2 separate regions of the Homo sapiens genome follow, and region 1 is reported to be linked to region 2. The links are microRNA targets in miRTarBase. Many come from high-throughput screens and were not tested one by one. Region 2 holds a microRNA gene; the other region holds the end of a gene's coding sequence.
The links. Region 2 holds the annotated microRNA hsa-miR-4708-5p (AGAGAUGCCGCCUUGCUCCUU, at 5,746-5,766, shown strand). A microRNA usually pairs through its seed, bases 2 to 8, with sites in the 3' UTR of a target mRNA and lowers its output. Matches are read on the target gene's strand: a 7mer-m8 pairs with bases 2 to 8, a 7mer-A1 pairs with bases 2 to 7 and ends in A, and an 8mer does both.

Region 1 (10,591 bases), not on the chromosome of region 2:
CTTCCTAATCTTCCTACTCCCAAACTACGGAAGAAAGAGAACTGCTGGATAATTATTCTTTTTTTTTTTTTTTTTTGAGACAGAGTCTCGCTCTGTTGCCCAGGCTGGAGTGCAGTGGCGCGATCTTGGCTCACTGCAAGCTCCGCCTCCTGGGTTCAGGCCATTCTCCTGCCTCAGCCTCCCGAGTAGCTGGGACTACAGGCACCCGCCACCACACCTGGCTAATTTTTTGTATTTTTTAGTAGAGACGGGCTTTCACCGTGTTAGCCAGGATGATCTCGATCTCCTGACCTCGTGATCCGCCCGCCTCGGCCTCCCAAAGTGCTGGGATTACAGGCGTGAGCCACCGCGCCCGGCCTTGCATAATTATTCTTGAAACACTTAAGATTCATGACAAGGGGCAGAATCTAGGTAGAAAGTGCTTAACTAGATGTTAAACCCTGTGGCTTGAGAGCCCCAATGTTAAACCAAAGAGGTATAGTAAAGGCTGGTGATAGACCAGGAAAAAGCCTGCCCCCACCTAAGCCCCCAGCTTTACCCCGCTTTGGTCATGGCCAAAGCCGTGTTGGGGCTCAGGCCTGACGGACCAAAAGACAAGGCCCATCTATAAAGAATCTTGGAGGCCCATTTTGTATTTGAAATACTTCAAAAATTTCCAACAACATCAGGGCTAATATTTGTACAGGCAGTTACTTCAAGTAAAAACAAGAGAGATGGGTACAAAGTGAGGAAAGGGAGGTAGGATCAGGGCTGGGCTAGCACTGGTGTGTGGAGTAACCTGATTAAACCGTGCTGTGCTTCTGTCCTCTCCTATTGTCTCTGAAAAACCATCTAAATTTGCTTTATAAACATGTATAAGCCATTCTCTATAAGTGCGTGGCTAAGAAGATAATTGTTCTGTTAAGTTTTTTCTTAGAGACAGGGTTTCACTCTTTTGCCCAGCTGGAGTGCAGTGGTACAATCTTGGCTCACTGCAGCCTCCTGGGCTCAAGCCATCCTCCCACCTCAGCCTCCCGAGTAGCTGGGACTACAGGCTCGTGCCACAGTGCTTGGCTAATTTATTTTTGTAGAGATGGGGTCTCCCTATGTTGCCCAGGCTGGTCTGGAACTTCTGGGCTCCAGCAATCCTCCCACCTTAGCCTTCCAAAGTGCTGAGATTACAGGTGCGAGCCACCATTCGAGCTCATTGTTTTATTTTTAAAGAACATTAATAAAAATTATGGCCAGGCACAATGGCTCACACCTGTAACCCCAGCACTTTGGGAGGCTGAGGTGAGAGGATTGCTTGAGCCCAGGAGTTCAAGACCAGCCTGGGCAACATGATGAAACCCCATCTCTACAGAATACAAAAAAAAAAAAAAATTAGCTGGGCGTGGTGGCTCACGCCTGTATGCCTGTATCCCAGCAGCTCCGGAGGCTGAAATGGAAGGATCACTTGAGCCTGGGAAGGTCAAGACTGCAGTGAGATCATGCCACTGCACTCCAGCCTGGGTAACAGAGTGAGACCCTGCCTCAAAGTAAAAAAAGATAATATAGATATCTGCCACTATACTTAGTGTTTATTCTGTGCCGGCCAGATCCTGGGCATTTTACCTAGAATACCTTAACTCGTTTCTTTCTTTTTTTTTTTTTTTTTTTTTTTTTTTTGAGACAGAGTCTTGCTCTGTTGCCCAGGCCGGACTGCAGTGGCGCCATCTCGGCTCACTGCAAGCTCCGCCTCCCGGGTTCACGCCATTCTCCTGCCTCAGTCTCCCGAGTAGCTGGGACTACAGGCGCCCACCACCGTGCCCAGCTAATTTTTTGTATTTTCAGTAGAGACGGGGTTTCACCGTGTTAGCCAGGATGGTCTCGATCTCCTGACCTCGTCATCCTCCCGCCTCGGCGTGAGCCACCGCGCCTGGCACCTTAACTAGTTTCTAAACTCCAGAAATATTAGTGTTCTCAGGCTTTCAGAAGAGAGCCATGGTCTAACACGAGGTGCTTGGTAACTGCATGGTCATGTGGTCGGCTTGCTGTTTTCGCCTGGTGACTTCCTCACCTGTGCGGGGTCTGCCCGTTTAACGCACCTGCAACATGCATTCCTGGACAGTGGGTGGCGCCATGGAACCATCTGCCGTTCTCACTGCACCCCTTCATTTGTGGCAGCCTTAGCTTTTAGTGGATGAGGGGAGTCTATTGGTTGATAAAAAAGACTGTGAGACTTTTAAAGCATATCCATCGACAGTGATAACGAGGAGACGTAAGCAGGAAAGGAGGCAAAATGATCCACTATGCCAGTGGTCAGGAAACGTGTCTCAGGAGGTGGCACAGAAACTGCCAAGTCCTTGGCATGCCCCTGGCTGGGGCCTGCGTGGGCCAGGCTGAGAGAGCTGTGGACTGAAGAGAAGCAGGTGTTAGACGTGCAGACAGTTCCCGGGCAGGAGCTGGAGGCCGAGGAAAAACGCAGCTTGCAACATGCTGGAGTTCAGGAGCAAGCTGTGTGTGTGTCTTAAGAATTGCTTGTAAGAGTTACTATAACCAAATCGACAAATGTCAACTTGGCTAATAAATCGTACTTGGTAGAATAAAGAGGACAGTTCTCAGTGCACGATCCTGTTTCTTCCACAATTCCGGTCTCCTCTCCATGGTGCCTTCGCTGAGGCAATCTGTGCTTTCCCTGAACTCTGTGTCACCTCTCAGGCTAGCCGTCCTTAGCCATGAACAGAGCTAATGAACATGAGCCATGAACATGAAGCTGTCCAGGGGTAACCAGTGAGTTCAGCTCAAAACAGGGGAATGCCAGAGTGTTGTCAGCATGAGTGGGGAGAAACATGTAATTCAAGAATGTAGCCGGGCGTGGTGGCTCACGCCTGTAATCCCAGCACTTTGGGAGGCCGAGGCGGGCGGATCATGAGGTCAGGAGATCGAAACCATCCTGGCTAACACGGTGAAACCCCGTCTCTACTAAAAATACAAAAAATTAGCCAGGCGTGGTGGCAGGCGCCTGTAGTCCCAGCTACTCGGGAAGCTGAAGCAGGAGAGTGGCGTAAACCCGGGAGGCGGAGCTTGCAGTGAGCCGAGATCCCACTACCGCACTCCAGCCTGGGCAACAGAGCAAGACTCTGTCTCAAAAAAAAAAAAAAAAGAAAAAGAAAAAAAAAGAATGTAAAAGGGCACGTAGTTCAAAGTCTCTCAATCTATAAAGGAGGCACATGGCAAATCATTGGCAGAAATAGGGTCAGAACCCAGGAAGATTTTGCCTTAGTCGAACCATCACTTTATTTCTGCACTTACAATGCTGATCTCAAGGAAATGAATTGATGCTAGTTCATTTCTTCTATGATCTATTAAACTGATCAAAAAGAGCCTTTTGCAGGCCTGTTTTTAGACTTGTAATTGACACTTGCTGAAATCTTTCATGTCAATGCCCACCAGTATGTCCCTGATCACTAGTGTACAAAACTGTGTCACAAAGAATCTATTTGGGCCAGGCACGGTGGCTCATGCCTGTAATCCCAACACTCTGGGAGGCCAAGGGGAGAGGATCGCTTGAGCCCAGGAGTTCAATACCAATCTGGGCAACATGGTGAAACCCTGTCTCTATCAAAAATTAAAAAATTAGTTGGGGGTGGTGGATGCCTGTAGTCCCAGCTACTCAGGAGACTGAGGTGGGAGGATGGTTTGAGCCCAGGAGGCAGAGGTTGCAGTGAGCCAAGATCACACCACTGCACTCCAGCCTGGGCAACAGAGCCAGACCCTGTCTCAAAAAAAAAAAAAAAAACAGAAAAACTGGCCACCCATGCACCTTAGCCAAAAAGAATCATATGAAAAAGAAAATACATGTTGTGCATGTGGAAGACTAAAAAAATAAAAAAGGAAAAATCAAGTTGTAAGAATCGACTCCAGCTCTTGTCCTGATTTTTAGGCTCTTCTTGCTTCTTTCCATGTGTTCATCACTGTGATGCTGATAAGAGCCAGAAAGCCTAGGAAAGCTTTGTGGACACTTTTTTTTTTTTTGAGACAGAGTCGCATTCAGGCTGGAGTGCAGTGGCACAATCTTGGCTCACTGCAAACTCTGCCTTCCCAGTCCAAGTGATTCTCCTGCCTCAGCCTCCCAAGCAACTGAGATTACAGGCACCCGCCACCACACCCAGGTAATTTTTGTATTTTTAGTAGAGACAGGGTTTTGCCATGTTGGCCAGACTGGTCTGGAACTCCTGACCTCAAATGATCCTCCCATCTCGGCCTCCCAAAGTGCTGGGCATAAGTCACCACACCCAGCATTTTTTTTCAACTTCTGAACATAGGGCAGCTTAAAAATGTGAAGGCCGGGCATGGTATTTCGTGCCTGTAATTCTAGCACTTTGTAAGGCCGAGGTGGGAGGCTCACTTCAGCCCAGGAGTTCGAGCCTGAAAAACACAGTGAAGCCCTGTCTGTACTTTAATACAAAAAATTAGCCAGTCTTGGTGGCACATGCCTATAGTTCCAGCTACTCAGGAGGCTGAGGTAGGAGGATCCCTTGAGCTCAGGAAGTTGAGGCTGTGGTAAGCCAAGATCACACTACTGCACTGCAGCCTGGACAACAGGAGACCCTGTCTCAAAAAAAAAAAAGGAGGGGGGGGTGCCGAGCGCAGTGGCTTACGCCTGTAGTCCCACCTACTCGGGAGGCTGAGGCAGGAGAGTTGCTTGAACCCAGGAGGCAGAGGTTGCAGTAAGCCAATATCACCCCACTCCACTCCAGCCTGGCAACAGAGCCAGACTCCGTCTCAAAAAAAAAAAAAAAAAAAAAAAAAAAAGGCCGGGTGCAGTGGCTCATGCCTGTAATCCTGGCACTTTTGGAGGCCAAGGCGAGACCAGCGTGGCCAACATGGTGAAACCTCTTCTCCACTTAAAATACAAAAATTAGCTGGGTGTAGTAGCGCACGCCTGTAGTCCCAGCTTCTCAGGAGGCTGAGGCAGGAGAATTGCTGAAACCTGGGAGGCAGAGGTTGCAGTGAGCCGAGGTCATGCCCACTGCACTCCAGCCTGGGTGATAAAGCAAGACTTCGTCTCAAAAAACAAACAAAACGTTAACATTCAGAGGCAAGCGATGGGGTCTATGAGATAGTTCATTTGTGTTGCTGCTGAACCAGTAAACAATGCCAACAAGAACAAACCTGGGAAGCGGACCTGGGCAGGCATGCAAAGAATGTACACTCTACCCTCTGTGGCCTTGCTAAGCTCAGCTCTCGGTCCCGTCCTCTGTCCAGATGCCCCTGGCTATCATGTGTATAGTGTGTCTAGGTAGCCTCCGGAACACAGCCTTCTTAGTCTGCAGATTCCTGCTCTACATCAGGATGAGAAGTTTGTTAGTAATCACCTGGTTTTACAGAACTGATGTGTTACCAAAACATTTTTTTTTCTTTTTTTGAGGCGAGGGTCTCACTCTGTGGCCCAGGGTGGCGTGCAATGGTGTGATCTCTGCTCACTGCAACCTCAGCCTCCCAGGTTCAAGTGATTCTCATGCCTCAGCCTCCTGAGTAGCTGGGATTACAGACATGCACCACCACACCTAGCTAATTTTGGTATTTTTAGTAGAGATAGGGTTTTGCCGTGTTGGCCAGGCTGGTCTCCAACTCCTGGCCTCAGGTGATCCGCCTGCCACAACCTCCCAAAGTGCTGGGATTATAGGCGTGAGCCACTGCACGTGGCCCAAGATGACAATTATGATTATATAACATGACAGTAGGAACTTCCTGAGGCATAGGACTTGCAAAGGCAGTGACACATTTTTATATAAATTAACTTTTATTTCTGTAACATATAAAAGGTATAAATAGGACTTATGTAAAAACCAATCACCTGCACACACAAATTATGTGAAATTAGTTTATATATCTCTTTAAACCAGAGGGAGGAAGAAGCAGGATGAGGTCCACCTGGCCCACCATAAGTCCTTCCCCACATGCTGTCGTGTATTAATAGCTTCTGTGGCCAACCAGGGTTATCTGCCAGGCAGTGCCTCAGGATGGGGTGGGGGGTGGTGGTGGTGACGAGGTGTGAGGCTTCTGGGCATGGCTGTGAGGGAGGCACTTGGTGGGATACATGCCTGAGATGGAAACAGTCTCGTCCTCACCCAGCAGGTGGGACTTGTCGGTGGGGGACAAGCCAAGGGTCCCGCAGCTGCCAGTTGGCCCTCCTTCACATGCTTATCTGATGTGGTGCAGGAACAACAGGCGGAGGTGAGAGGTCAGTCCACAGAAGGGAGGTCTGAGGGAGCAGCCGCCACGGGTGTCCCACCCAACGCTGGCAAACAGTTCTGTGCACAAGGGATGCAGCTGAATGGTGCTGACGGTGGAGCTCACAGAGCTCCTGCATTCTCAAGGTTTGGATACATTCTGGGAAGGGTGAACTGGTGTAAGAGTCACATAATACGTGGAGGGGTGTAATAATCAAAAAAACGTAGCAAAACACCTTCTGTGCCTGAGCCAGGGTTGAGGGAGCCGAGAAGAAAGTCCACAGCTCTGCCACACGGGCCAGCAGTGCTCATGTCTGCTGGCTGATCCTCCCCAAAGCCTCTCCTGCCACCTTTTTTTTTTTTTTTTTAACTAAACTAAATGGTCAATACTGCCATCTCTCTTGATAATGACAAAGTGTTTGCACAGGATGCCTACAGGTGTGTGTGTCGCTCCTCACTAATGGATCCGTAGTCATATAGCTGTGAGAGGCACTCCTGGGTTGAAAATGAAGGCAATTATCACATTACTGTCAGTCCTGACTGAGTCACCTCTAGAGTTTATGCTTTCAGCCTTAATTGAAATGAAGACAATTATATAAAATTCTCACATAATTGATCACAAATGTGATCACAGCCACTCTTGACTAAGATTGGTGCCGGCCAATCTGCTGTGAGGGAATGAAGAGAGGAGAGGAACTGCGATGTCAGTCCCTGATTCTACTGCAAGTTTCCAAGCACATGAAATCCCATTCTAGCTTTGGAGACCCCAATGTGACAAGAATCTCCCTGTGCTTTAAATCATCTCTCACCCATGCTAAGCTGTGATCCCTCACCAAGTCTATGAAACCTGGAAAAGGAGTGAGAGTGCGCGGGGTGTGTGTGTGTTTTATATATTCAGGGGTCGTTCCAAAAGGGGCAAACTATTGCTCTTCGTGTGTGTGTTTTATATATTCAGGGGTCGTTCCAAAAGGGGCAAACTATTGCTCTTCGTGTGTGTTTTATATATTCAGGGGTCGTTCCAAAAGGGGCAAACTATTGCTCTTCGTGTGTGTGTTTTATATATTCAGGGGTCGTTCCAAAAGGGGCAAACTATTGCTCTTTGTGTGTGTGTTTTATATATTCAGAGATCATTCCAAAAGGGGCAAACTATTGCTCTTTAAGTCCTGGGGCAGGGAGGGGAAGGGGAGGCCACTGTCTGCTCCTGAAAGCTCTGTGGGGAGAAGGGCTCCCTGCCTGACTGTTCTCTCATTCACACGCCAGCTTACTGTCAAAGCTAGAAAGACCGATGCCAAAGGCCTGTACTGCACAAAGTGGGTAGTTGTAATCCAGTGTGAACACGTCATCTGCCACACGTCCAAACTGCATGACTATATAATCAGCTAGAAACAGAAAGAAATCAACATGTTAGAATATAATGTGGTTGCACTCAGGGAAATCTTTTTCTTTTTCTTCCTTTTCTTAGATGGGGTTTTGCTCTGTCGCCCTGGCTGGAGCCTAGTGGAATGACCACAGCTCACTGCAGCCTTGACCTCCCGTCCCAGGCTCAAGTGATCCTCCCACCTCAGCCTCCTGAGTAGCTGGGACTACAGGCAAGCGCCACCACGCCTGGCTAATATTTTACTTTTTGTGAAGATAGGGTCTCACTATGTTGCTCAAGCTGGTCTCAAACACCTAGGCTCAAGTGATTCTCCTGCCTCGGCCTCCCAAAGTGCTGGGATCCTATTTATGATACAGAAAGAATCCTCCAAATAGGCCAGTTAATCACCAGGTTTCTGTAGAATAGAGAGCAGCTTGCTGGGAATGTCATAAACTCCGCAGGCTAGAGCTGCCAGGAACCTTTATTGGGGTCATTTGCCTTTGTTTCCCAAACAACCTACTCTATGACTTCTCTGATTTTTTATTTTTTTCTGAGACAGGTTCTTGCTGTCACCCAGGCTGGAGAGCAGTGATGCAATCTCAGCTCACTGCAGCCTCGACCTCCTGGCTCAAGTGATGCTCCCACCTCAGCCTCCCGGGTAGCTGGGACTACAAGTGCCTGCCACCACGCCCAGCTAATTTTTCTATTTTTTGTAGAGATGGGGTTTCACACCATGTTGCCCAGGCTGGTCTCAAGCGATCTGCCCACCTCGGCCTCCCAAAGTGCTGGGATTACAGACGTGAGCCATGGTGCCCAGCCAACTTCTCTGATTTGCTATAGCATCTCTCTCACACTCCTCTCCCCTCCTCAACACAGTGATTTACAAGTTTTCTCTAAAACTGTAGTTTCATCTTTCCAAAGAAATCCTGTCTCTCCTCCATGATTATCTGCTGACTGTCACTTCCTATCATGTACAGGGAATGTGCATTCCCATCCTGTAAGAGCATCTGTCCTCCTCTTCCCACCCAACCCCTCCTGGAGGCTTACGGTCATTTTTGTGGACTATCTGGAAGTTCTTCACAGACGCCTGAGTGACCCGGCCACGGAAGTTGAGGACATAGGACTGAGTGTCACTGTTCCAGACGGGGGCCTTGTTGTGCAGCTCAACCAGATTTTCCATAGTTCTGTTCTGCCACCTTGAGAGCAAACTGTCATGGTTCTGTCCAAAGGGAAAATCATTACTTTGTACTGAGAACTCCAACTCTACGAGGTAGAAGGTAGAGTAGGAGAATACTTTCTCCATTTCAGAAAGGGTAAACCAGAAGCGAAGAATGAAAGCCAACAATGAAGACAGGTTTTTTTTAAAATTATTCTACATCATCCAGCATTTCTCTTTGTAGAAAAAATGGTTTCAAGGCAATGACTCTGCAACTGCTCTTATCCTGAGGTTTTGGAGGGGCAGCTTTCCTAAAGAAGTGTATGGAGCTATCTCCAGTGTGGGGCTCTGGAAGCTCAATCTTTTTTTTTTTTTTTGTATTAATCTCTGTGTATTGTACTACTGTCTTTTAGAGTCTTTCACTGATTTAAATACATTCTTACTCACGTTTTGTGGCTGATAGGGGATCTGCTTATGATTCAGTGTCATTCCAGGAATGATCACAGACATTTTCCTAGGACCTTTAAATCCAAGTACGTTTGTTTCCTGGAAGATAGGAAAACAAAGCAGAACTTGGAAACAGGAAAAAAATAGAGACCACATTCTTTTATAACATGAGACTTTCTTGGGAATGTAAGATGCTGACAATATCAGCTGTATCAGCCGGGGCAGTGGATCACGCCTATAATCCCAGCACTTTGGGAGGCCGAGGTGGGCAGATAACCTGAGGTCAGGAGTTTGAGACCAGCCTGGCCAACATGGTGAAACCCTGTCTCTACTAAAAATACAAAAATTAGCCAGGCGTGGTGGCAGGCGCCTGTAATCCCAGCTACTCGGGAGGCTGAGGCAGGAGAATTGCTTGAACCCAGGAGGCAGAGGCTGCAGTGAGCCGAGATCACGCCGTTGCACTCCAGCCTGGGCGACAAGAGTGAGACTCTGCCTCAGAAAAAAAAAAAAAAAAAAAAAAAAAAAAAAATCAGGTGTACCAAAAATAATTTTATTACTTTGCTGTAAACAGAATCAAAAACAGGAAAGTAATATTATATCTCTTTATACTTCTCTTTTTTTTTTTGAGACAGAGTCACGCTCTGTCGCCAGGCTGGAGTGCAGTGGCACAATCTCAGCTCACTGCAACCTCCAATCTCCACCTCCTGGGTTCAAGCGATTCCTGTGCCTCAGCCTGGGACTACAGGCGCATGCCACCACGCCTGGCTAATTATTTTTTGTATTTTTAGTAGAGACGGGGTTTCACCAAGTTGGCTAGGATGGTCTCGATCTCCTGACCTCGTGATCTGCCTGCCTCAGCCTCCCAAAGTGCTGGGATTACAGGCGTGAGCCACTGCACCTGGCCTATACCTTCTTTAAACACCTACATTTAAAACAGAATCTCTTGGCTTGAGAGTTTACTCTTAACTATTTTTTTTTTGGGACCAGAGTTTCACTCTTGTTGCCCAGGCTGGAGTATAATGGCACAATCTCAGCTCACCACAACCTCCGCCTCCCGGGTTCAAGCAATTTTCCTGCCTCAGCCTGAGTAGCTGGGATTATAGGCATGCGCCACCACACCCGGCTAATTTTGTATTTTTTTTTTTTTTTTAGTCGAGACGGGGTTTCTCCATGTTGGTCTCGAATTCCCGACCTCAGGTGATCCGCCCATCTTGGCCTCCCAAGGTGCTGTGACTACAGGAGTGAGCCACCACGCCCGGCCTCTTACTCTTGAGTCTTAAATGTGATTTGAGATAACTGTGAACAAACTGTTCAACTTTGTCAGCACCAACACATATTTATTTCCCAGTGAGGGCATAGCACTATATTACATACAGTGAAAATTAGTTGTGGTTAAATAAGGCCTGCACTAGGTATTAAAAATGCCTGTCAAGC
Region 2 (10,591 bases):
TCACGAGGTCAGGAGCTCAAGACCAGCCTGGCCAACAAGGCAAAACCCCATCTCTACTAAAAATACAAAAAATTAGCCAGGCATGGTGGCAGGCACCTAATCCCAGCTACTCGGGAGGCGGAGGCAGGAGAATTGCTGGAACCCGGGAGGAGGAGATTGCAGTGAGCCGAGATTACACCACTGCACTCCAGCTCTGGTGACAGAGCAAGACTCCATTTCAAAAAAAAAAAAAAAAGGATAGACAGATTGGCTAGTGACTGTAATCTCAGCATTTTGGGAGGCCGAAGCAGGCAGATCACCTGAGGTCAGGAGTTCAAGACCAGCCAGGCCAACGTGGTGAAACCCCGTCTCTACTAAAAATACAAAAATTAGCCAGGCTGGTGGCACACACCTGTAGTCTCAGCTACTCAGGAGGTTGAGGCAGAAGAATCACTTGAACCCAGGAGGTGGAGGTTGCAGTGAGCCAAGATTGTGCCAGCGCACTCCAGCCTGGGTGATAGAGTGAGACTCCATCTCAAAAAAAAAAAAAGACAGATTTCTGTAATATAATAGAAAGATCATATCAAATATACACCCTGATATGCTTTGGCTCTGTGTCCCCACCCAAATCAAATGCTGAATTGTAATTCCCATCGTTGGGAGAGGGACCTAGTGGGAGGTGATTGGATCATGGCAGTGGATTTCCCCCATGCTGTTCTCGCGATAGTGAGTGAACTCTCACAAGATCTGATGTTTTAAAAGTGTGTGGCACGTCCCCCCTCACTCATTAGCTCTCTCTTGCTCCACTATGGAAAGATGTGCTTTGCTTCCTCTTCACCTTCTGCCATAATTTTAAGTTTCCCCAGGCCTCCCAGTCATGCTTCCTGTTAAGCCTGTGGAACTGTGAGTCAAATCTCTTTTCTTCATAAATAACCCAGTGTATGATAAAGCTATCATGATACAATGAGATCAACAAATATTTTTCTTTTTCTTTTCTTTTTTTTCTTTTGAGACAAAGTCTTGCTATCACCCAGGCTGGAGTGCAGTGGCGCAATCTCAGCTCACTGAAACTTCCACCTCCCAGGTTCAAGTGATTCTCCTGCTCCCAAGTAGCTGGGATTATGGGCATACAACACCATTCCCGGCTAATCTCTCTATTTTTAGTAGAGACGGGGTTTCTCCATGTTGACCAGACTGGTCTCGAACTCCTGACCTCAGGTGATCTGCCCGCCTTGGCCTCCCAAAGTGCTGGGATTACAGGCATGAGCCACCATGGCTGGCCAAATATTTTTCAATAAATGGTGGATGGATAACTGACCAGCAGTTTAAGAGGGAAGGGAAGAATTGAGATCCACACCTTATATATTAAAATTAATTTTGTTTGATTTCAAGTCTTAAAAACATTTAATACTGTGAAGTTCAGAAGAAAATAGGATTGAAAATTTGTCAAAACAGTAGTGGGAAGATGACTCTATAATTATAAGCAATACTAATTGCTTATAGTATAAGCAATAGTACATTGCTTCTAGTATAGCAATATAGTATACTACACAGAAAATATTAAAGTACTTAACTACATAAAAATTTTTTTAGGCTGGGCACGATGGCTAACGCCTGTAATCCCAGCACTCTGGGAGGCCGAGGCGGGCGGATGACGAGATCAGGAGATCAAGACCATCCTGGCTAACACAGTGAAACCCCGTCTCTACTAAATACACAAAAAATTAGCCAGGCGAGGTGGCAGGCGCCTGTTGTCCCAGCTACCTGGGAGGCTGAGGCAGGAGAATGGCATGAACCCAGGAGGCGGAGGTTGCAGTGAGCCGAGATCACACCACTGCACTCCAGCCTGGGTGACCGAGTGAGACTCTGTCTCAAAAAAATTAAAAATTCTTTATAAATAAATTTTATATGTAATACATCACCAGAATTAACAACAAACAACATACCAGGAGTTATATTTACAACAAGAACTATGTCAAGAACTCAGATAAGTTGATAAGAATCCCATTAAGATCTCAGCTGATAACTGAATAAAAACTAACAAAACAATTAACAAAAGAACAAGTATTAACAAACACACAAAAGTAGTCAATTTTACTAATTATCAAAAAGAAGCAAATTAAAAGAAGCATGGTATTTTTTCACTAAATTAATTAAATTAACTTTATTAAATGAACTCCTTTACTAAATTAATCCCTACCAAATTAAAATGGAAATCCCTAAATCCAAACCCAGTAATATCAGGACCTGTATTCCTTGGGTAGTACCATAAATTGATGTAACCAATTAGGAAAGTAATTTTAAGTCCTAAAAATATTTATGCCCTTTGACCTAATAAATCTCTTTGGAGAATGAATCGAGAGCAGAGCAGCAGAAGCCTAAAGCCATTGCCAAAACTCACAGTTTCATCCTTTCATGCTTTCCCTGAATTAGGCCTTCCCAGACCCTATGCCTGTGCTGTTCAATACAGTAGCCACTGTCCACATGCACCCCTCTTTCCTCCACAAGGTAATAAACTCCATAAGAGGTACCCTGTCAATCTTGTTTCCTGCAGAATACTAGATCTTAGAACAGTGCCTGGCACACAGTAGGCGTCAACAAATACTTAGTGAATGAATTTATGAATGAATGTCAAGCTATTCCACCAATCCTCCCCAAATACGCTTTGAGCTTTCTTGTCTCCAAGAAAGTCTTGCCTCAAAGTGTTTGTTTTTGCCCTCTTCTAACCAGAATCTTTATTGCTTATCTAAAACGATGTACTTTGAGCTTCAAGTAGAAACTGCCCAACTCAAAAGCATTTCATGATAAGATTTTTTTTTTAATCTTACAAAAGAAATTCAGGGCCGGGCACGGTGGCTCACGCCTGTAATCCCAGCACTTTGGGAGGCTGAGGTGGGCAGATCACGAGGTCAGGAGATGGAGACCATCCTGGCTAACATGGTGAAACCCCATCTCTACTAAAAATACAAAAAATTAGCTGGGCATGGGGGCAGGCGCCTGTAGACCCAGCTACTTGGGAGGCTGAGGCAGGAGAATGGCGTGAACCCGGGAGGCAGAGCTTGCAGTGAGCCAAGATCACACCACTGCACTCCAGCCTGGGCGACAGAGCAAGACTCTGTCTCAAAAAAAAAAAAAAAAAATTCAGAAGTTGTGCAGTTCCAGGGTTGGGTAATTCCATAGCTCAGCAATGTTCTCAAGGAACCATGCTTGTCCACCTTTTCTCTCTGCCACTCTGCAGCTGTTGCCTTTACCTTCCTCTTTATGTTTGCAAGATGGCAATAGCAGTTCAAGCTCTATGTCCTTAACAACATCTCAAGGCCAGAGTACCTTGCTTCCTTTTGAAGACTTAGAGATTTTCCCAGACGTCCCTTCTGCAGTTTCCTTTTATGTTCCATTGTCCAGAACTATAGCATATGCCTTATTTATTTTATTTTATTTTATTTTATTTATTTTGAGACAGGGTCTCACTCTGTGGTCCAGGCTAGAGTGCAGTGGCTCAATCATGGCTCACTGCAGTGTCAAACACCTGAGCTCAAGCAATTCTCCCACCTCAGCCTCCTGAGTAGTTGGGACTAAAGGTACGCACCACCGTGCCCTGCTAATTTTATTTTTTATTTTTGTAGAGAGGAGGGCTCACTATATTGTCCAGGCTGGTCTCAAACTCCTGGACTCAAGCAATCCTCTCATCTTGGCTTCTCAAAGTATGGGAATTACAGGTATGAGCCACCATGCCCAGGCCAGTACATTCCCATTCTTAAACCAGCCCATTTCTAAACCAGTTACTGGCAAGAGTAGAAAATTTTCATGATTGGCCTAAAGAATCCAGATTCACCTTCCTTGGGCTGGCTGAGTCCCGCATCCCAGAGCTCCTGGTTGATATAACTGAAAGAAGTGGAACTAGGGTAGGAGGCTGCACTCCAGGAGATAAAATGGTCTCAAAATAAGCCCTTGAGACTTTTTATAAGTCACAAAATCCTACTAGTTTTTCAAAGTGCAGCTCAAATCTTGGGTCTTTCATTAATCTTTCCCTTATTATCTTAACCAGAAGCAGCCCATCCCTGCTATAAATTTAAAACCTTGAGTATCGGCCAAAAACACTGGAATCATTCCTGATTTCTCTCTTTATGTCATAAATCATAACCCTATATCTCATCTATCTTGTCTACTCTACCTTCATTATATATCAGAATCTAATCTCATCTCACCACCCTTAGTCTCTTCTCTCTGGTCCAAGCCACCATCATCTTCATCTCATCCCGGATTATTGCAGCACCCTTCTCACTGGCCTCACACTTCTCCTTGTGCACTCTTGGAGTCCATGCTCAGAGTGATCCTTCCAAGGTGTGAGTCCAATCATGTCACTGCTCTACTCAAAGCCCTCCAATGGCTTCAAAACAAAATCTAAAGTCCTTACCACCACTTGCAGGGTCCTCAGTGATCCACTCTGTCACCTCTCTCATGTCCTCTCCTGCCCACAGTCTCCTGCTCACTACTTTCCAGCTACACTGGCCTGCTTGTTCTTAGAACTCACCAAGCACACTCCTTCCTGAGAGCCTTCGTGCTTGCTGCTCGCCTTGCTTAGAAAATTCTTCACAGACTCAGATGACTCACTCCCTCCTTCTTCAGATTTTGACTCAAATGTCTCCTTACCAGAGAGGTCTTCTCTGATCTCCCATCTAAAAAACCACATTCTCTTAACCATGTCACTCTACCCTCCTTAATCTGCTTCATTTTCCTTCAAAGTACTTCCCAGAAGCTGGTGTATTATACATATTTATTTGCTGACACTCATCTTGGCCTCTCAAAGTATGTCTTGTCTCATTAGAACATAAGATCTAGGGGGTGGGGGAATAGGGGAGGGATAGCATTAGGAGAAATACCTAATGTAGATGACGGGTTGATGGGTGCAGCAAACCACCATGGCATGTATATACCTATGTAACAAAGCTGCATGTTGTGCACATTTATTCCAGAACCTAAAAATATATATATACATATATACACATATATACGTGTGTTCCTTATACATATATATATATAAGGAACATAAGATCCATAAAGCCAGGGGTTTTATCTGTTTTGCTCCCTGTTTTTTGAGACAGCCAAGTGTAAAGGGGTCCCCTGAGAAACTCCGACTGGCCTGCGCACTGGGAGAACAGGGTGGAGCTGCAGAAGTTCACACCCTTTGCAGCAGGAAGGAGCCTGGCCTCTCCTGATCCAGGGTAGTACATGGGATTCAATCAGTGAGGCAGGAAAAACCAGCAAGCAGGACTCTCACTTTGCTGAGAGTCCCTGTTTCCATTTATTTTCCTTTTTGCCCAATAAGTTCCATTCTTCTCACCCTTCAAAGTGTCTGCAAGCCTAATCTCTCATGGCTGTGTGACAAGAATCCGGCTTTTAGTTGAACTAAGGAGAAAGTCCTATAACACTTTAGCCTCAGAGCTTACAACAAAACATAATTAGTGCTCCATATATATTTGTTCAATACTTATGTATTCCCTTAATGTTTGTTATCTGTTGGGCATGGTCTCTAGCTGCTATCTTTACACACATCCTGTCTCTTCAACGGGAACATACGATTCTTAAAGGCCAGAGCTGAGTCTTAAAGCTCAAGGCCTTAACATAAAGAGGCCACTCCAAAGTGTATGTTGTTGACATTTGGAGGGAGGATACATTGGGGCAGTAACAGCTGTTGTTATGTTACCTACCCGCTCTTGGCAGGGCCCTGAGAAGCTGAGGTATGAGACACAACAGCATATTTAGGAGAGAGATGCCGCCTTGCTCCTTGAACAGGAGGAGCAAGGCGGCATCTCTCTGATACTAAAAGGAGAATACGGGAGCACCTTTCTTACCTACATTTCCCCTGGAACTAGTCTTTCCACTTGCAAGTTTGTTTACAATTCCACGTTCTTTGCAACTGAATGGGGCCTCACCCTCATTAATTGGTGGCAAAGGTCACTCCTTAACAGATGCTAAACAGAAGCAGAGCAAAGTTAAGGGTGGCTAAGGTCACACAGAGTCGTTGCTCAAATTTAGGAAGGAAACCCACCTAGTGTGAGGTGGGGCCCCAGGAGGGGCATCTGAGCCCCAAGAGAGCAGCTCTCTTTAGCCCCTGCTCTAGTTTCTTTGCAGTTCTCCTAAAGAAGTTCACCAGCAAGGCCATTTACCAGACACCAGGGAATCAGGCCACTTTCAAATGTTGATAGCATTACGCTTGCCAGAGGAGAAAGGGACAAGTGAGGAGACTGAAGACAGTGCTTTCAAGAAAAAGAAGAAAAAGATATTGAATGTGCACTCGCTAAGCCAAAAAAGCAAATGCCAGGAAGAACCGTGAGCCTTGTTTGAAGCCAAGTCTGCGCAGAAGAGTCCCAGGTGTAGGGAAGGAGGAGCTGAGGTGGTCTGAGGACGCACAGCAAATGCCCTGGGGGGTGGGGCGGGAGGAGAGAACATATTTTAAGCAACCTTAAAAGACTCGTTTTAGCATTCCGCAGGAAATGAAAAGCAGATGTGTTGGTTTGGAACTTGTTTACATATTTGGCCTCTGAGAAGCTTCCAGGACAGTTAGGACTGGAGAGAAGGGGTATTTTAGGCAAATGCTATAGTCTCCACTTGGAGAGAGTGGGGCCCTTCATTGGCTCACCTGCTTCCTGAGAAGCAAGCATTTAGGCTGAAAGACCATCATTGTCCCTAAGACAGGTCTGGCTAGAATAAACCAGGATTTGATATACAGAACTGGTCTCCTTGTACCTTCTTACAGAAACTAAGGGTTGTTGCACCTCCTCTCTTGCTTTCAAGTCACACCCACTGGGCAGAGAAGTGAAATCAGAGGCCTGGACATTGGGAGGATGATGGGATGGTTCACACCAAAGGTCCTGAGATTTGCAGAAGGCTTGTTAGAATACAGATTACTGGGTCTCACCAGCTCAGCCGAGCTAAGATGAGGCCAGTGGCTACACACTGGAATCATCTGGAGATTAAAATAGACTGATAGCTGAGCCCTGTTCCCACAGATTCTGATATTAATTGGTCTGGGGTGTGACTTAGGCATTTTTTAAAAATTATTTTTAATATATAATAGAGAGGGGGTCTTACCATGTTGCCTAGCTGGTCTCAAACTCCTGGCCTCAAGCAGTCCTCCTGACTCAGCCTCCCAAAGAGCTGGGATTATAGGCGTGAGCAACCATGCCCAGCTGACTTGGGCATTGTTTAAAGCTCTCCAGATAATTATAAGGTATAGCCAAGGTTGAGAACCATTGAACTATTTATCTTTTACCTGCTCTCATCATTCCATCCCTAGATTAACTTCAATTTACCTTCATAACATGTTCACAAGGTGGTTAGGACCACAGGAGACCGTGGGATCTAAATTAGGCATAAACCTGGATTTAGAGAAGGGGCTAAAAGAATATTGCTCTCAGAGACATCAACTATCAAAAAATCTATGTAAATGCAGGCAATTCCCCTTTTTTGTAGTATGTCCAGGAAATGGCGCTCCTTAAAAGATATTTTTTAGTTGCTAAGGGACAGGAAAAGTAGCAATCTTTAACACTTATTGAGCATTTATTATGTGCCAAGTACTCTTCCAAGTGCTTTCATTTTAAATTAATTTAATTTCCACAACAGCTCAATGATGTTGGAGCTGTTATTTTCCCCATTTAGCAAATGAGGAAACTGAGATACTAGGAGATGAACTAATTTGTCCAAAATCACACAATTAGTCAGTGGTAGAGCTGGCTTTCAAATTTTGGTGTGCCTCTGAATTACGGAGACTACGGAGACTCCGCTGAGAAAGAAAAATAGCTCAGATCAGTCTGAGCTATGTGAAGTATACAAAATTTATCAAGCCTGGAGAGACAGGAGTATGGGACTTCAGTCACATCTCTGCGCCCATGTCCAGGGCAACTGTGTAAAGGCATTTTGTTCCTGCTTAACTGCCTTACCCATTATCTTCATGTTGGAATTTGTGATGCAAAGAATAACACATACCCAATCAATAGCTTATGTTATTTTAGTATAAATTCTTGGTAAACAATTTAGGAGCTGCCTCTTCTTTATTCCTTAAAAATCCTCTTGTAGCTATTTCTAATCAGAGTGTGGGTTTAGGGCAACTTGAATCTATGCTCTTGGGTGGCCACCCTCAAGCTTTGAGCTTGAATAAACTTGAAGCCATCTTCACCATGTTAACAAGAATTCTGGACAGAAATATAGTTATGATTAAGCATTAATTAGGCTGCACTGTGGCTCACTTCCTTGTAACAACAGGAAGTGAAAGTTGTGGAGTACTAGATCCTGACCACTTGCATCCTCATTGTTCCTACAGATAGTATTTCTGTCTGAGGTTAGAATCATCAGGCCTCTGATTAAGATAGATAGAATCTCTGACATTAGAATCATAAGGCTTTTGTTTAAGAATTGCTTAAGATGTTTTTCAGATCCCAAATTTGAGCTGATGCCAACAAGTTTGAAGACCCCCAGAGGAGAGCAGAATCAGCATGAGAATATAGTTTCTTCATCTCCCTGTTCTATGACTTCATCCTGCACCCTTGGGCCAAGCAAAGATCTCCACACTTCAGCCCACTCCAAAATCACTAAAAATTCTAGACCCAAATTCCTTGGAGAGACTGATTTGAGGTTTCCTCCCATCACATTCAGCTGCCCTACAATTAAACCTCTTTCTCTCTTGCAACTAGGTGTTTCAGCGTATTGACTTGCTATGCACATTGGGCAATGAAACGATTATGGTTACAAACTCTATATTTAATCATCTCTTCAGAATCTCATTAATTTAGGTTGTGAACCCCAAATATCTGAGACAGGTCTCAATTTAGAAACTTTATTTTTTCAAGGTTAAGGATGCACCCGTGACACAGCCTCAGGAAGTCCCATGACATGTGCCCAAGGTGGTCGGGGCACAGCTTGGTTTCATACATTTTAGGAAGACATAAGACGTCAATCAATATATGTAAGATGTACATTGGTTCAATCAGAAAGGTGGGACAACTTGAAGCAGGGAGGGGGCCTCCAGGTCATAGATAGACAAACATTCTTTTGAGTTTCCAATTACCCTTTCCAAAAGAAGCAATCAGATATGCATTTATCTCAGTGAGCAGAGGGATGACTTTGCGTTCTGTTTGTCCTTTGTCCAAAAGGAATTTCCTTGTAGACAAATTGTGAGGCAGGTATATAGCTTTTTTATCTTAGTAGCTATCTCCTTTAAGGAATAGAATGGGAGGCATGTTTGCCCTAAGCAGCTCCCAGCTTGACTTTTCTCTTTGGGGGGGTCCAAAGATTTATTTTCCTTTCACAAGGTTGACACTGTTCAAAATACTAATGACCAGGCTCTAACCGAGACCAACTGGATCAGGATCTCCTGGAGTGGATCTTTATCAAAATTATTATTATTATTATTATTATTATTATTATTATTATTATTGAGATGGAGGCTCACTCTGTCACCCAGGCTGGAGCGCAGTGGCGTGATCTCAGCTCACTGCAACCCTCCACCTCTTGGGTTCAAGCGATTGTCCTGCCTCAGCCTCCTGAGTAGCTGGGATGACAGGCACGCACCACCATACCCGGCTAATTTTTGTATTTTAGTGGAGACAGGGTTTCACCATGTTGGCCAAGCTGGTCTCAAACTCCTGACCTCAAGTGATCAACCTGCCTTGGCCTCCCAAAGTGCTGGGATTACAGGCGAGAACCTGGCATATCAAAATTATTTTTAACAAATCTCCTAGAGAGTTAGTTGTTGGACAAGATATGAGGCCACTGTTGGGGGTTATTTATTTATTTAGAGACAAGATCCCTCTGTTACCCAGGCTGGATTGTAGTGGCACTGTCATGGCTCACTGCAGCCTCAACTTCCTGGGCTCAAGTGATCCTTCTGCCACAGCCTCCCAAGTAGCTAGGACTACATGTACACACCACCATGCCCAGCTGATTTTTTTGTTTTTTGTAGAGACAGAGTCTCACCATGTTGCCCAGACTGGTCTAGAACTCCTGGCCTCAAGTGATTCTGCCTTGGCCTCCCAAATTTCTGGGATTACAGGCTTGAGCCACTGTGCCCAGCCTCACTGTTGGGGTTTAAAATGAAGACTTTGGAATCAGGTTATCCTAGGTTCATTATTTTGCCACCACTTACAACTGGAATCTTTTAACAAATTCCCCATTCTCCCTTTGAATTTTCATTTCCTCATCTGCGTTGGAATGATTATACTTAGTTCTTGAGATTGTTCTGAAGATTACATGGGTTTAAGGTACTTAGCATAAAAATAGAGGCTGGAACATTGCAACTCCAGAAGGTATTTTGAGACATTAAACAGGTCCTCCCTTCTACCATCAACAAAACACACTTCACCACATTCTACTGCTCTGCAGACCCAGGCATGCCCTGCCCCAGGGAAAAGTGAGGTTATCATAGCTGGAATGCCAAGAAAAAGAAAGTCAGTGGTTAACTTTTGAGATTCAAATGAGATTGCTGAACACAAGACCTAGATTTGAGAGAAAATACTTTTTGAGCATTCAGGAACTCTTTGGCCCTAAATCGTTATTTTGAACCAAATAAGAACGGTCTGAAAGAACTCTCCCCACTCCTCCATGCAAGATTACCAGC

Region 1: miRTarBase lists TULP3 as a target of hsa-miR-4708-5p. Seed matches in the 3' UTR shown: 7mer-A1 at 6,070-6,076.

Annotation. Positions count from the first base shown.
Region 1 is chr12:2,936,296-2,946,886 of GRCh38, reverse strand. It overlaps TULP3 (TUB like protein 3), which reads right to left. Exons shown (of 11, transcript NM_003324.5): 9 at 9,158-9,256; 10 at 8,602-8,773; 11 at 5,749-7,576. The coding sequence ends at 7,443. Among named protein-coding and RNA genes, the nearest start is that of TEAD4, 18 kb to the left of the region's middle.
Region 2 is chr14:65,330,330-65,340,920 of GRCh38, reverse strand. MIR4708 (microRNA 4708) reads left to right here and starts at 5,738; the gene lies at 5,738-5,804. RefSeq lists enhancers at 4,490-4,639, 4,700-4,799, 9,753-10,363.